2 separate regions of the Homo sapiens genome follow, and region 1 is linked to region 2. Evidence: fine-mapped expression QTL. Tissue or cell type: lung. Region 2 holds a variant in brackets; the other region holds the start of a gene. All regions are shown on one strand. Distances are from middle to middle.

What was found. PIP is the estimated chance that this variant, and not a neighbour inherited with it, causes the effect.
Region 1: it holds the start of RNF32-DT, and the variant in region 2 is fine-mapped to the expression of RNF32-DT in lung (TOPMed, PIP above 0.99).

Annotation. Positions count from the first base shown.
Region 1 is chr7:156,636,316-156,644,422 of GRCh38, reverse strand. RNF32-DT (RNF32 divergent transcript) reads left to right here and starts at 3,888. Exons shown (of 4, transcript NR_026865.2): 1 at 3,888-5,475. It overlaps RNF32 (ring finger protein 32), which reads right to left and starts at 3,649. Exons shown (of 9, transcript NM_030936.4): 1 at 3,612-3,649; 2 at 531-622. The coding sequence starts at 545. RefSeq lists a silencer at 3,749-4,058 and an enhancer at 3,627-4,218.
Region 2 is chr7:156,951,183-156,959,289 of GRCh38, reverse strand. It overlaps NOM1 (nucleolar protein with MIF4G domain 1), which reads right to left. Exons shown (of 11, transcript NM_138400.2): 2 at 6,692-6,816; 3 at 4,992-5,187. Among named protein-coding and RNA genes, the nearest start is that of NOM1, 5.5 kb to the right of the region's middle. The variant C/G (reference allele first, on the strand shown) is at 4,656.

The sequences.
Region 1 (8,107 bases), 310 kb after region 2:
ACTCAACCTTGATGGCACATACAACCAAATCAAATAGTAAGGAATGCTTGACTCATTGTTACCTAAGTAGGAGCAGACCCTTGTCTCAGCATTTATGTTAACAATACAGGAATATCTTTTCATTTAATTATGAAAGCCTTAATTATAATATGAATAAATTCATTATGACCCATAAACCTGTGCATGCCTAAACAAACCCACGCTGCTTCACTATAATTAAATTAGACTCCAGGCAACTACTAAGGAGACTCCTGCCATTTCAGCTTATGCCTTTTTGTGAAAACTTAATAATTTCCTGTGCAGAATAAAAATCACCAAACAGCTAAGAGATGCTTGCAGTAAATATCGCCAGAGATTGTTTTTCCATTGGCTTGTCCACTGCCCCATGCGACACTTGGCATCGCCCATTCCTGCTGACAATTCCTAGTTCAAGCAGGGTTTGCAAACTAGTTTTTATACTCTCAAATGGCTGAATTAAAATACATTTCATGAGTCAAATAACGTGTATGTTTAAGAAAAGAATAGCGTACCTTATTTTTTAACATGCCGAATTAGGAAAAGTTGTTGCTTGGCTATCACAAATTCTATCATCACATCCTATCACCTTCCTTCTATTCTTCTGCTGCAAAGACGTGGTCAACAGAAAGTCAAAGTTACAGTGCACAGAAAAACCATGAAGTTTGTGAGGATGCTCTGTAAGAGTCTAACAGATCCTGAAGCAGCAGGAATGCCTGCTACAGGGTGGCACTAAGCTACACATTCTGGTTCTGGAGGAAGGGGGTGAACTCAAGTCAGTTATGCTTCGACTCATCCCTGTCCTCAAATAGTTCACCCCTGAGCTCCTGAGGACACATTAATACAAATGGTTAATTACTATGAATTAATCCATTGCTAAATATAACATGATACATAAGTACTACAAAACTTCAGGCTAACACTGGAGACTTGGAAAAACCAGTTAAACTGGCATTTGAAAGATACACAGAGGGAAATGAAGATGGCACATTACAGGTAGGAGGAAAGAACTGGCAGGCTGGAAATCAGCATGATATGCTTATTTTGGGGAGAAAGGGAACAATGAAGAAACTGGAACGCAAGAGGAACACTGGCTAACTTCAGTCTGTCCAGAACACAGAAGTACAGAATATGGGGACAGACCAACTTGAGTTCCAATTGAACTCTACCGCTTTGCTGCGCAAGATACTGGACACAGCTGAGCCCCAGGCTCCTCATCTATAAAGCAGGTATAATAACGCTGGCTTTGCAGGGTTGCCGCAAGGATTAATGAGACAACCTTTGAAGTATCTAAAGTAGGTCTTTTCACACAGAACTTACTCTTGTTATTCTTGCTTCAATTCCCTTCAAAGCTGGTGGAATAATTTGGAATTGGCCCTTTTAGATTTTGGACATGGTGTATTTTATGAAGACAGATGTATTCAAAATATACTGTGATGAGGAGAAATAGAAAGTTATTCAAGTAATCTAGGAACTGGCACAGAAGGCCCTTGAACATATTTCTTCTAATGTTGTTTCCCTATAACGCTGATGAGAAAAAAAATTGATCCCCAGCAGGGGCCACTGTCTGTTTGGAGTTTGCACGTCCTCCCCATGTGCTGTGGGTTTCCTCCAGGTACCCCGGGTTCCTCCCACATCCCAAAGCTGTGCACGTGAGGCTCACTGGGGCGTCCCCGTCTGAGTGAGTGTGAGTGTGCCCTGCCATGGGATGCCGTCCTCTCCAGGACTGTTGCCCGCCTTGGTCCTGAGCTGCCTGGATGGGCTCAGCCCCCTGCCACCCTGAACTGGAATAAGCAGGTTGGAAAATGAAAGGATACAAATTATTGTCAAATAAAAACTCGTAAAGCATACGGTATTCACACAGAGATGCAGGACAATACCCGATGCAGTAAGAAAGGCCCAGCGGGCTGAGAAGTGGCTCCTGTTTGTTTTGAAACTGCATGGTAGGGGGAGGTGCTTCAGAGCTTTGGCTTGGCCAACATTATCTTTAACACAGCCCCTCCACAACCCGGTCACTCATGGATTCACCAGAAATTGGGTAATGATATTTCTTAAATGTAGAGCTCATATGTACTTCAGTGTTTCATATTAGAAGTGCTTTGGTCTTTATTTAGAAGTTTGGCGATGTTTTTGTGACCAGGAATGTGCTGTGGGAACTTTCCTCTTATTTATATCAATTAACCTATGGTGAAACTGGTTTCCTTGTACACTGCATGGCTTAAAGCTCCAGTTTCTAAGAACCTATGGATGATGTTAAGTGAAGACTTACTGTGTTGAGGGCCTAACTCTAAAAATAGAAAGAAATTAATCCAAAATGTATTTCTAAGGACTAACACTTGTATTAAATTACTCCAACCGAAAGAACAAACTCACTAAGGCGTGAGTGGAGAGATAGAAAAGCACAGTGGAACCAAATCTCTGAGATATCCAGGGTTAGAAGTAAAAACGTCAGTCGCTGCTCAAGTCCTGGAGGCTTTGATGATGGTTCTTACTACAGCCCTTTTCTGTTCCCGTTCAATTCTGGCATCAAGAGATGTTTGAAATAAGTTCCACCCTGTATCTCATCAAGACAACTGAACTTGGAGAAATGGTGGAATTTAAAATACTGAAAGATCACTGCCAGAATTTTCTCAGTTCCTGCTTCCAAAATGCCTATAACCTGCAGAAGATACAGTTTGCATCACACTAAAAATGGTCCGGTCATAGCTGCAGTCTGCAATTTAATCTCAAGTTTCTACACAGTAGACCACTGTCATTAATATCAAGGTAAGAGCTTTTAAAACCTATACTCTCTTAAAGTCCTACGGTATCATTAAGTTTTAGAGTTTAAAATTCAGAATTTAAAGGTATTGAAAACCCTTCAAGTACCTACTCCAACTCCACTTTATAAATGAGAAAACCAAATACCAGGTGAGTCCTTCAATATATAATGAGCCTGCGGCACTGGTAGGGTTAGAAACGTAACCCTTGCCCAGTATTGAAAGCTAAGATTAACAGGAACCCGTTGCTTTGTAAATCCCAGTATTAAACGCTCAAGAGGCAGAGCTTGGTGGCAAAAACGATCACTGGGGTGCCAAAGCGAGTAACCTCAGCTAATTAAACACGCTCAATAAAAATACACGAGACCAAGCCTACGACGTAAAGATGCAATCCTACGTAGGGTCTTGGTGTTATCTCCTGCCTTCTGAACCCCGCTGACCGTTTTCTGAGGTTCCACTCATGCAGGAAGCGCGCGGTGACGAGGCTCCAATTCCTCTCAAAGCTGACACCACCCTGCACCTGGGGCCCCTGATGGCAGCCGGTCCTACCGGGTTCTAAAATTACCGACGTGGGATCACTGTTCTAAGGCTTTAGGCAGCCGTAAATTCGTACCCCTCAGATAGAAGGAGCTGTGGAAACTAACCAGGACCCCGAGTCCCCCAAGGAGGCTGCGCGCCGCTACGGGACCCGACCTCGCCTCACAGCTGCGGCCATCGCCGGCCCGGCTCGGAGGAGGCGAAAGCGAGGCCGCGGACGGCCCTCACCCCGAATCCATGGACCCCGCCCGCCTGGCGGGCCACCCTTCTTTCCGTCCCTCCCCCGAAGCCTCTCCGTGCCTCGACTCCTCCGCGAACACCGGAACCCAGGGACGTCTGCCCCTTTTCCCTCAGGCAACTCCCTGGCCGCCCACCGTTGCCGTAGCAACGCCCGCCTCCGCGCTCGCTCCCCGCGGGCTTGCTCACCAGCCCTGCCCCGCCCCGCCCCATACTGCGCATGCTCGCCAGCCCCGCCCGGCCCACATTGCGCATGCTTGCCAACCACGCCCTGTCCACACCACACTGCGCATGCTCGCCGGCCCCCGCCCCGCGCACGGCGTCAGCGTCTAGACGCAGGTGCGTTCCCGTCGAGGCTCGCGCAGCGGGCGTTTTTGGGGATCGCCTGGCGGGGGTGTTCGGGAGCCGCGGGCTGAAGCACGGGGGCGTGCAGGCGCCCAGGCCTCGTGTAGTGAGGGCCGAGCCCCGCGCCGGCTTCGCTGTAGTCCGCAGCCCCCGGCGGCTTTGTGGGCGCAGCCACGCTCCTCAGCCGCCCGCCCACCTGGGCCTGGGCCCCGGTTGTTTCCCTGCGGTGGCTGTGGTCGTTCCCGTTCCAGGGTCTCGAGCGCACCGCCCCTTCGCTGCGCTGTTAGTCGAGGGCAGTTTTCTGGGGGATCCCCCGATCCCCCCGCGCCGCTCAGGCGTCTTGGCTCGCGGAAGCGCAGGCGCCGACTGCCTGGCGTCGTCCGTGACTCCTGGCCCTTCTCTGTGGATCCCTTTGCTTCTCGTTGCGGGTTGTGTTTCCTGCTTCGTGGGCCTGGCCGTTTGCGTTTGGATGCAGGCCCGGGTGAGCCCTGCGTGGCCCGCTGGCCTTTTCCTGCTCCCTAGGTGACTGAGCCGCGTGTGTGACACATCGGAGTGAATTGAGGCAACGCGTTCCTTTCCAGGCTTGCAGCGGGCGGTGTCGTTCACGCTCCTGAGCAGAGCCTTCCGGTGCTTTACTCGACGCCACAAATAGTGCAGGGTTCCTCCCAGGGGCTGTCGCGAGCTAGAACTCTTCCCCGCCCCTGTGAGCTCGGGCTGTTCTTCCTCCTCCGCGTGGCTCACTCCAGCCTCGGATGTTTCCTCGCTGCACAGACCTGCTCGGGAAGACTCGAGAAGGCCACCCCAGGACTCCAGCTCTCCCCGGAAGGGCTTCCCCTCGGATTGCGTCTTGGCCCCTGGAACCCTCCCTCTGTATCCTCTGCTGTTCCTCTCTTGGCCTCCATTTGGGTTGTGGCCTGGATACTCTGGCTCGCTGCTTCCCTTCTCTTAAGGATCACAGCCCTGCACTGCCTGTCGTCCGGTGCCTGGAAACCATTGTATTTTTTGGTCTGATTTTGTAGTTGTTTGAGAACTTAAGTCTGGTCCCTCACACTCCATGCCCAGAAGCAGAAATGAGTAAAGTTTGTTTTATCTTTTCTTAATATGACAATTATTGTGTTGGTTCAACTTATGTTGTACTTTAATTAGAAGAAATTTGGCCGAAAATACAAGGAAAATATACAAATGCAAGTAATTTTTTTTAAACTTCCCTGAAAGCAGGGTCTAAAGAAATTACCAACCAACTTAGACTGGATCTAGAAGAAAAGGAAGGGTCTTTGCAGTCTTAGGACTCTTCCGTTCCGCGACGTAGGTGTTAGGATAACAGCCATAAATGGTTGTAAGACTTTGGGCTCAGATAAGTAGACTTAAGTTCAAATTTTGACTTATTTTACAAGTGTGTGATTTTTGGCAAGCTCATCTTCCTAAACCATGAGCTCCTTATTTGTAAAGGGGACATTAGCCACTCTCCAGCAACAGCCCTGGTACTTCTTCAGTCCTGGGATGGGACGTATGATTAGCCTAAGCGAACCAGAAAATCCAGGCCCGTGACCAGTGACTTGATCAGGGCTGGCGATATATCTAGGTAGGCCAACCAGGTGGACTCAGTATTTTTGTGGGTGCTACTGGAAAATTTATTTAATTCTAACTGAATGTAGAAACAGCAACAGACATGAAATGGCAGTTGTATTGCTGTCTTATCATGAGGTGAGGGCCTGAAGCTATGGTAGCCACCCTGTGAACCTTGGAAGGAGGGTTCTACAGGAACTGGCAGAGCTGAGACTGGGACGCAACCCATGTCCTGGTGACGTATTTGAGTCCTGAGGCTGGCCCTCCTGTTAGTCTTTTCTCTTACTGGCTTCAGCCAGATGGGGTCTGGTTTTCTGTTACTTGCAACAGGAAAAATTGGAATGATATCTATGCATGCTATTACCGCCTTATGGCTGTGGTGAGATTAAAACATGATACTGTGGGTGAACTGCTTAGTACAGTGCCTGCTATTCTTTATGTTGGTTTTAAGGTATTTTTCTTGAACTTTAAAGTTCTAAGAAAAATTACCGTTTTAAAATTCCTACCCTCTGTTCACATGTTTAAATTTTCATGATAGTTTTTCTGTCTGCATGTTTTCTATTCAAAATAAATTGGTCATTCTTCAGTTAGCCACGAAGAATATTGTGAATTTTTTATTTTTAAATTTATTTTTTATTGATACATATTAGATGAACATGTTTTTGGATAACGTGATAATTCGATAAATTCATAAAATCAAATCAGGGTAATTGGGATATCCATCCCCTTAAATATTTATCTTCTATTTACACTAGGAACATTCAAATTATTCTAGCTATTTTGAAATGTGCAATCGATTTGTGTTAAGTATAGGCTTGACTGAAAATTTAACCTTATTGCTTTCTAATTCTTGACAAAAACAAAGCTAACATAGTTGATATTTGAAGAATACATTCATTCTTCAAGATAGTGTGTTCTGTTGAAATGAGTTAGATGATCAGAATGCAACATTCTTGGATAGGGATAATTAAAAATATAGTCAACCTATCTTGTCCCCAAAACCATGTTATCAATGATTTGTATTTTAACATTATGCCTTTTGTTTTAAAAAAGTTTTTTTGTTTTTTTGAGATGGGCCTGAGAAACTGCATGTATACAAAGCATGTTTACATCTTCAGAAAACTGCTATTGAGTACATTCTCCATGGTGCTGTTCAGTGCCATTTGTGTAAGCACCCACATGATTGTTTTAGAATTTCAAAACCACTAATTGAATGTCCTAGGAATAGTGGAGACGGAAGAGAAAATTAGAGGTGCATGATGTTAAGGATGTTGAGGTGCTTAGTCACAAGGAGAAGGGCACCAGTGTACTTGGCTGATTAAGATGCACTTCTGTACTCCACTGTGCTTAAGAAGAAAGCTGCGGGTGGTACTCTAAGAGATCTGTTGTATAAACATTATCACAAAAAGAGTGATGATACCTGTGCTTATCCAAGGAAGAGCAGCCCAAGATGGATGGCAATAGCGGACTATTTAAGTGGAAGACATTGATATGAAGGGAAAATCTTATATTTTGCTTGTGTAGAGCGCAATTCACAGAAAGTGTTCAAATACTAGAATAGGCAGTTGGAGTCCAGCTTGTGGAAGATGGGGTTTTCTTCATGATGACACTAGAGATCATGATATTGGATACTAGTGCTGGCCCTGTATTTTTATTTATTTATTTATTTATTTATTTATTTATTTATTTATTTATTTATTTTGAGACAGAGTCTCTGTTGCCCAGGCTGGAATGCAGTGGCGCCATCTCGGCTCACTGCAACTTCTGCCTCCCAGGATCAAGTAATTCTCCTGTCTTAGCCTCCCGAATAGCTGGGATTACAGGTGCCCGTCACCACGCTTAGCTAATTTTTGTATTTTTTAGTAGAGTCGGGGTTTCGCTATGTTGGCCAGGCTGGTCTTGAACTTCTGACCTCAGGTGATCCGCCTGCCTCGGCCTCCCAAAGTGCTGGGATTACAGGCGTGAACCACCGTGCCTGGCCTATGGATTCTTAATGTATCATACCCATAATATTTGAATTTGCCCACCTGCCTAGTCTCTAAACACTGCACTAATGAAAGCCTAGGCAGGGTCAGAATGGTTCTTAGTTCAATATCCTTCTCACATTTTAGTATCTTAATGCTCTCACATTTCTCCTTTGTTATGTACAAAATATTCTCAAAGCCTACTCAGTGCCTATTTGACTCTTGTCTCTCTTAACACAGTCCTTGACATCTAAAACAAACCTAAGGAGCAGAAATTGGTGGCATGGGGTTCATCTTTAATTTAGTTCTCAATTTTAACCTTCACCAAAACCATCTCTCCATTTATTTTTCTTAATCTTCTGTATTACCTTTAACTTTCTACTCACACTTGTATATTTATTTATTTATTTATTTTTTCTTTCTTTATTATTATTCTTTAAGTTTTAGGGTACATGTGCACAATGTGCAGGTTAGTTACATATGTATACATGTGCCATGCTGGTGCGCTGCACCCACTAACACGTCATCTGGCATGAGGTATATCTCCCAATGCTATCCCTCCTCCCACACTTGTATATTTATTATCAATTTCTATTCCTAACTTGCTGATGTGGTTTGGCTGTGTCCCCACACAAATCTCACCTTGAATTGTAGTAAGTAATCCCCATGTGTCAAGGGCAGGGC
Region 2 (8,107 bases):
TCTACTAAAAATACAAAAAATTAGCCGGGCGTGGTGGCATATGCCTGTAATCCCAGCTGCTTGGGAGGCTGAGGCAAGAGAATCGCTTGAACCCAGGAGATGGAGGTTGCAGTGAGCTGAGATTGCGCCACTGTACTCCAGCCTGGGCGACAGAGCAAGACTCTGTGTAAAAAAAAAAAAAAAGTTCCACTACCTAACAATATTCATTTCTTAAAAGATTTTTTTGCAGATTTTTACCCCAAATTCATTTCTTACAAGGAAGCAATACGAGTGATTTCTAAAACAGATAAACGCAACACATTCTGAATATCAGAGGTTGCCAAATAGACAGGTACTTAATAATCTCTGGAAGGGCTCCAGGTGGCACGGAGGAGACGCCCTACTTTCCCAGGGCTGAGTCTCTGGCACTAAGGTAGCTTGTGAATACACTCACTTGGCTCAGCCAGTGGTTTGAGGGGCACTGGGCCCTGATGGGGACCAGCAGGTAAACCAGACACTGCCCTGAGGGGCGGAAGTGGGGCCAGGAACTGCCGGGCCTGGTGGAGCTAAGCAAGGCCTAAGTGTTCTCCTTGTGCTGTTCTGGTACATTTTATCCCGAATTCCGTAACTGTGGACTGAAGGATGAGAAGACCTGCATGTGGGTCTGTGTGGTCTTCAGCAAGTTCCTGGAACCCTGTTTTTTCACTGTGTAAAAGAGAGATAATAAAACTTGAAGGCAGAAAACAGTCGTTTTCAGTCTTGCTGGCAACACTACCGTGTCATCATTTTCCGTCAAATCTCAACTTAAGCTGGGACTGGAGGGAGAAGGCGGAAGCAGGGACATGGTGGTGACAAAGAGTGACCCCCACAGCCCAGCCAGGAGACGATGGCCTAAATAACGCAGCTGCGCTGGACCAGGGATGAAGGGCCTGGGTAACACAGCAACGCATGGCAGTGTGTGACACCGGCTGTAAAAGCTGAAGGATCTGTGACTCCCAGGTTTCTGGTCTGGGTAACCAGGAACTACGTGAGGGGCAGCAAGCTAGTGGGGCTGGACAAGACCAGCTCAGGGGTTATTAAGCTTCAACAGGGGCCATCCAGACAGGACTGGATGGAGATCTAAGGGTGTCAGTGAAAATCGCAGGCAAGGCTGAGATCCACCAGACAGTCTTGAGTGTATGGGGAAGTACACAGACATCATTGCTGGACTGCAAAGAAATCAACGCTAGAAGAATCCAGAGAAAGGCAACAGACTGGCGGGAGGCCACAGTGACTTCCTGGAGGCCAGCTCTGATGGACTGGATATACACTTCAGTTTGTAAAGACCTGAGACTTAACCAAGCCAACCTGTAGTTTCCATTCAAGCCCCTTCAATGAAGATAAACTGGAAGACACATTCTATTATGGCAACCATGTTATAGTCAAATATAATTTTTAAAAGTAAATTAGAATTCTGCAGACGTCAATAAAAATTTAGGCATAAAACATATTCATGTATATTTTCTTTTTCTTTTTTTTTTTTTTTTTTTTTTTTTTGAGACGGAGTCTCGCTCTGTCGCCCAGGCTGGAGTGCAGTGGTGCGATCTCGGCTCACTGCAAGCTCCGCCTGCTGGGTTCACGCCATCCTCCTGCCTCAGCCTCCCGAGTAGCAGGGACTATAGGCACCTGCCACCATGCCTGGCTAATTTTTTGTATTTTTAGTAGAAACGGGGTTTCACCATGTTAGCCAGGATGGTCTCAATCTCCTGACCTCATGATCCACCCGCCTCGGCCTCCCAAAGTGCTAGGATTACAGGCGTGAGCCACCACACCCGGCTGTATGTTTTCAATTATGTATATTACATCAAAATTTCTCAAAATTCTAAATCTGAAGTTCCATTTAATGTCTTCAAAATAAAATATAACAGCATAACATTTAAGAATATAAGTAAAATTCACGTTGGTAAAGTTATTCAAGCACATCCTGTACGTTAACTCTGATGTGGAAATTTTAACATGAATCTACATAGATTGGGTTTTTGAGTTTTAAAGGACTTACAGAAGCAATTCAGCAGCTGACACCATCGTCTTTAACACAGAATGTTTTTCTCGGTACAGGACTGAAAGCAGCTGAATGGAGCCAGCACCCTGAAAGCTCATCACACGCTGGCAGAAGTTTCTGTGGATGTCATTAACTAAAGTACTGTAATGACTTCCCTTCGGAACAAGTCATTTCATTGTCCTTCATGCAATTAGCAAAGGTTTAAATGAAAGTAGGCCCAATTATCTCATGTTTTCCAATCAAGTAAATTCCTGATGTGCTGTGGGTGGTCACGGTCTGTGGCTTTTCCTGTAACTCACTGAGATACTGCCTATACTAAGATCATTCTGATGATTAAGTCAGCTGAAGCATACCAGTGTCCTCTAGGAGGACAGGGAGGTACCAAGAAAGTCACAGAATGGCCCTGATTATGGTAATCACAGGGCCCAGGAATGGCACCCAGTGATTCCATCACTTTGTAATGACAAGAAAACAGACTCCCACATGCTCATACATGAAAATGAGGACAGCTCTTAGAAATAAAAAATAACAAGAGGGTTCCCAAAGCAGCTGGTGCAGATTTTCATATCTGAGATGACCCATGTAGCTCAGAAGAGTCCCGCACTCAGATGCTCAGGCCTGTGCCCCTCTCTCCAGCCCTCAGCTTCCTAATGCCCCACAGGCCTTTCAAAAAGCTGCCACCATGCAACTACTGCTAGACATGGAAAAATGTGGATCAGAACATTATCTAGCAACAACAAAGAAATCAGCAGTGGTAGGAAAAGCCAGCCAGAGGAAGAACAGAATTAAAACACGAAAATCTCCTTCTGTACATAAATAATGAGCCTTCAATGAGCGCTTATTGTGGGCCAGCTCTTTCCTATGCCTATTACATGAACTAACTCGTTGACCTTAACGACTGGACACAGGAAGACTCGGAGGCACAAGTTCATCTAAGTGACACAGACCGTGCGCGTTACAGCATGTTTTGTACTCAGGCAGCATCTCCACCCACCCCATGCCGCCTTCAGCACAGAAGCCCCAGTGACAAGAAGGCTACTTCATTTTGGCAAATCCGTGCATCTTTTTTTTTTTTTTGAGACTGAGTCTCGCTCTGTCACCCAGGCTGGAGTGCAGTGACGCGATCTCGGCTCACTGCAAACTCCGCCTGCTGGGTTCACGCCATTCTCCTGCCTCAGTCTCCGGAGTAGCTGGGACTTCAGGCGCCCGCCACCATGCCTGGCTAATTTTTTTTTGTATTTTTAGTAGAGACGGGGTTTCACCTTTTTGGCCAGGCTGGTCTCGATCTCCTGACCTCGTGATCCACCCGCCTCGGCCTCCCAAAGTGCTGGGATTACACGAGTGAGCCACCGCGCCCGGCCGGCAAATATGTGCATCTTAAAGCAAGCTTTGGAGAGCCCCACTTGGTAAGACTCTAAATAACTGTTAAGATTATAATTGAGAGAAAGTAATATAAAAATGAAATGAATGTGACTAGCATTGCAGTAGAAAGCATGCTTGCCTAGGAGCCCAGAAAACAAGTTCTGTGTACTTTTAACAAGACGTGATCTTGGGAATTTCACATAGCGCTTCAGCGGCTTTGCCTGCTGCACTGCAAAGCAAGCTTCAGTAAAGGTCTGCCCTGATCTCACCGGGACACTTTAGGATTAAAGGTGAGGAGGAGACGAAAGTATATAAACGTACACCAGGTAATTAGACTTTTAGGGATGCTGTGCTGCTGTGGCCTATTTTTTGGAGTAGAGCTGTCAGAAGGCAAAAAACTAAGAGAACCACCATTAAAAGAGACTATCATTTAAAGATCCAAATGGGTTAAACACTGCATTTGCATGTAAATACTGTATCACGGGAAAACTAAGCCTCACTGACCCAACCCTCCATTCGTTCACCAACCTCACAACAATCTCCTTTAGTTGGACGGATTTACTTCAACACATCTGAAATCAGCTACCTTGGGGGAACTGGGATACTGACTGGGAGTGTTATGACTTTCCTGTATTCAATTAAGAGAGAACAGGCCCAGAAGAGGGCAGTGACTGTGGAACCAAGGCCATCACCAAAGAGCCTCTCTGACTTTAACCACAAGGGTTGTGGAGCAAGAAGAATACGAAAGGGATGTGGGGGTGGGGTGGACATTTACTTAGCACCTGTCGGGTGCCAGATGCTTTCTGTACACTGTTCAGTTCAATCCCAACAAAAGCCCACTTCACTGATGAGAAAGGGCCATGACACAGAAAGGGCACCAGGTCTCCCTGAACATGTCCAGGCAGTTCCATGCCCCAGTGCTCTCACATCTCCCATCAATACCAACACCTCAGTAGTGAGACCACACCAACCATTATCTTCCAAACATCTGAAATAAATCAGTGTTAAGGGAGAAGTGCAAAGGAAATGAAGGCACGTCTGAGATGTCAGTCGAGAAGAAAATTAACTAACATAAAAGACATGCTAGGCTGGACAGAACAGGGCTGGGCATGGCAGCTCCCGCCTGTAATCCCAACACATTGGGACGCCAAAGCAGGAGGATCACTGGAGCCCAGGAATTTGACACCAGCCTGGGCAACAGAGTGAGACTCCACTTCTGCTCCCACCAAAACAATTAGCCAGGCCTGGTGGTGTGCGCCTGCAGTTCCAGCTA[C/G]TCTGGAGGATGAGGTGGGAGGATCACTCGAGTCTGCAGCTGTGATCGTGCCACTGCACTCCAGCCTAGACGACAGAGCGAGACCCTGTCTCAAAAAAAAAAAAAAAAAAAAGAATGGACAGAACAAAAAAGCAAAGTTAAGCAAAATCAAGTAATCAAGTACTTCCTGAATGCTCTTTACAACTACATGACATAGACAATAGAGTATTTATTCACAACAAAAAGGAATCGACACAAGAACCACCCACAGCACACAATTACGCACTTATCAAGCCTATCATTAAAATAATCACCATGAGACACTAGTGACAGCCTGGAGAAAAGGTACAACTGTACCTCGATTCCAACTGTGTGGTGAAGGATGCTGACTAAGAGAACATGCTCCATCATCAGTCTGCTGGGCATGGCCGAGGCAGTGACGCAGGCACCCATGAGAGCGGAGGTCAGGGTGTCATTCATGTCCTTTCTGCTGTGGGCCATGTACAGTTCCTCCAGCTGCCCACTGATGGAAGCCATGTTGGGTTCACTCAACCTGCAGAGAATTGTAAAGACAGAGAGCAACAATGTTTCCAATTAGGAATTTTCAGTTCAATTTTAAAAAATTAAAGAGTTATCCATACCAACAATATATTCTATTTTTATGTACACTTTTGACCCCTTAACTATTCTTATCTTGCCCCAATAACCCAGCATATATTATTCATAACCAGATAATATTCTGGAATCCCAAAACAATGTAATTGCTGTCTTTACAAGATGAAATGTGGCCACACTGAGGCATACCCTGGATTAAGTCTACAGAAACATACGTGAGGATACTCCCCTGAATATTCTGACCTGATATCCCATAGGCAGGGTCCAGCCTTAGGACGTGTTGTTAGAAAAAATGCTAACGTTTTATTTCTTAGGTGGCACAAAAATCCTTAGTTCCTAACACTAGAAAAGGCTGCTCTGTTTGAACGGGTAGTGGGGACACTACACACATATGTACGTGGAAGGTTACTCACTGTGAACCTGTGCTAATACTGAACTCGACACTGAAACAGAGGTTTATATAAATTCCCAGGATAACAGGAAACAAAAAGCAATACAAGGGGGAAGGGGGTGGGTGAGGCCATGGAGGGGCAGCAGGGGAGAGATGGTGGTGAGTTTTATCTCAATTGCAGCGGTGGTGACTCGAATCTTCATGTGATAAAACTACAGAACTGCCCCGGTGCGGTGACTCATGCCTGTAATCCCAGCACTTTCGGAGGCTGAGGCGGGCGGATCACCTGAGGTCGGGAGTTTGAGACCAGCCTGACCTACATGGAGAAATCCCGTCTCTACTAAAAATACAAAACTAGTTGGCGTGGTGGCGCATGCCTGTAATCCCAGCTACTCAGGAGGCTGAGGCAGGAGAACTGCTTGAACCTGGGAGGTGGAGGCAGAGGTTGCAGTGAGCCGAGATAGCGCCATTGCACTCCAGCCAGTGCAGCAAGAGCAAAAACTCCATCTCAAAACAAAACAAAACAAAACAAAAAAACCTACACAGAATCACATGCACACACACATCCTCAAAACCAAAGAGCTGATGGGCACGTGTAACTGACAAAGCCCCACCTGTATGGTTTCCAATCAGTTTTTTAAATGTTCTGTTCTTAAAGTGGGTAACAACAAAATGCAGACATGAGCAATGAGTAAGGGGGATGGAAGACCAGGTGAATGTGTTTCTGCAGAGAGGGGACATAAGCCAGTCCTTCCAACACTGTCCTTAGACGGACAAAGAACCTCTGCCCCTTTCCTTCCTGCTTCTCAGAATAACAATGTGAGCATTTGGGCTGCTCTCAAACCCTAAAGGGATTCAAAGTAGCCAACAGTCGGGTATCCTCTCCTTCTCGAGGTATGGGTCTCATGGGTCTCGGTGCATCAAGCCAAGAACAGAAAGGATCCAATCGACTGTCCCCATCACTTCTATTTGAATTGCTGGGATAATTCCTACATTTTAGGAAACAGACAACCTCTCTAAGTGACACAGTGTAACAACACTACAAGGTCACCTGTTAAGTAGACCTTTTACATGTTTCTTCAGCCTTTCTAGTTCTTCCTTTTTCTTGAAGTCCACTGTCTCCTCAGCTTGCCTCACATGAGGTGGGATGTACTTTTCACCACTTCCACAAAGACTCTGCTTGAAAAGAGAAATAAATTACAAAAAATTTACACTGACCAAATCCTGTGTTTTTTCTTTGCCATATGTGTATTTAAATATTAAACTTCCAAGAACTGGTGGAAGCTGCTACTGATCATTGCTGCTTAAATACATCAGATTTATTGAGTGCTTAGTATATGGGTAAACATTCCACTCACCAGGCTGTGCCTGTCACTATTCCCATTAATGCTATTAATAATACATTTCACCATCTCGTTTTCCCCTGTGTAGCTCTTCAGACCCAGCTGTGCACCTCTGGTATCTGCTCAACTCCAACAGAGCCCTATCTACTGCGCTTTTGCTCGGCCTTAACTTACTGCAGGCACAGTAGCATACAAGAACCTAAATTAAACAAACCGCTAATTTTGGAGGGAAAGTGTCCTAAAAACAATTTCAAACTTGTTTAAAAGTAATATCTAAGTTTATATGATAAAAATCAAAACCGGCCGGGCACGGTGGCTCATGTCGGTAATCCCAGCACTTTGGGACGCTGAGGCGGGCGGATCACGAGGTCAGGAGATCAAGACCATCCTGGCTAACACAGTGAAACCCCATCTCTACTGAAAATACAAAAAATTAGCCGGGCATGGTGGTGGGCGCCTGTAGTCCCAGCTACTTGGGAGATGAGGCAGGAGAATGGCATGAACCTGGGAGGCGGAGCTTGCAGTGGGCGGAGACTGCACCACTCTACTCCAGCCTAGACGACAGTGCAAGACTCAGTCTCAAAAAAAAAAAATCAAAACCAACTCACTGCTATTTCCTAAATTATCAAGGGGGGTGGTGGTGTTTGCAAATCATTAAGGACACAAACATTTGCAAGGCACGATCCTCACTGCTAGGTAGTTTAAACCTGGTTCAATAAAGAATATTTGTATACATAGAAGCTGAATATTTACATACATAGAACTAGTGCGATGTGGGGAGAAGGAAATGCAGGCAATTCCACACAGCTGCCTCCAACCATGAGCTACATGCAAAGGAACGCTGAGATAAAATATGCAAGATGACAGCCCATGAATGCCTTGATTGCTACGTCCTAGATTCTGAACTTTTTTTTTTCTTTGAAACAGAGTCTGGCTCTCTCGCCCAGGCTAGAGTGCAGTAGCGCGATCTCGGCTCAGTGCAACCTCTGCCTCCCTGGTTCAAGCCTCAGCTTCCCAAGTAGCTGGGATTACAGGCGCCTGCCACCACGCCCGGCTGTTTTTTGTATTTTTAGTAATGACGGGGTTTCACCACGTTAGCCAGGCTGGTCTCAAACACCTGACCT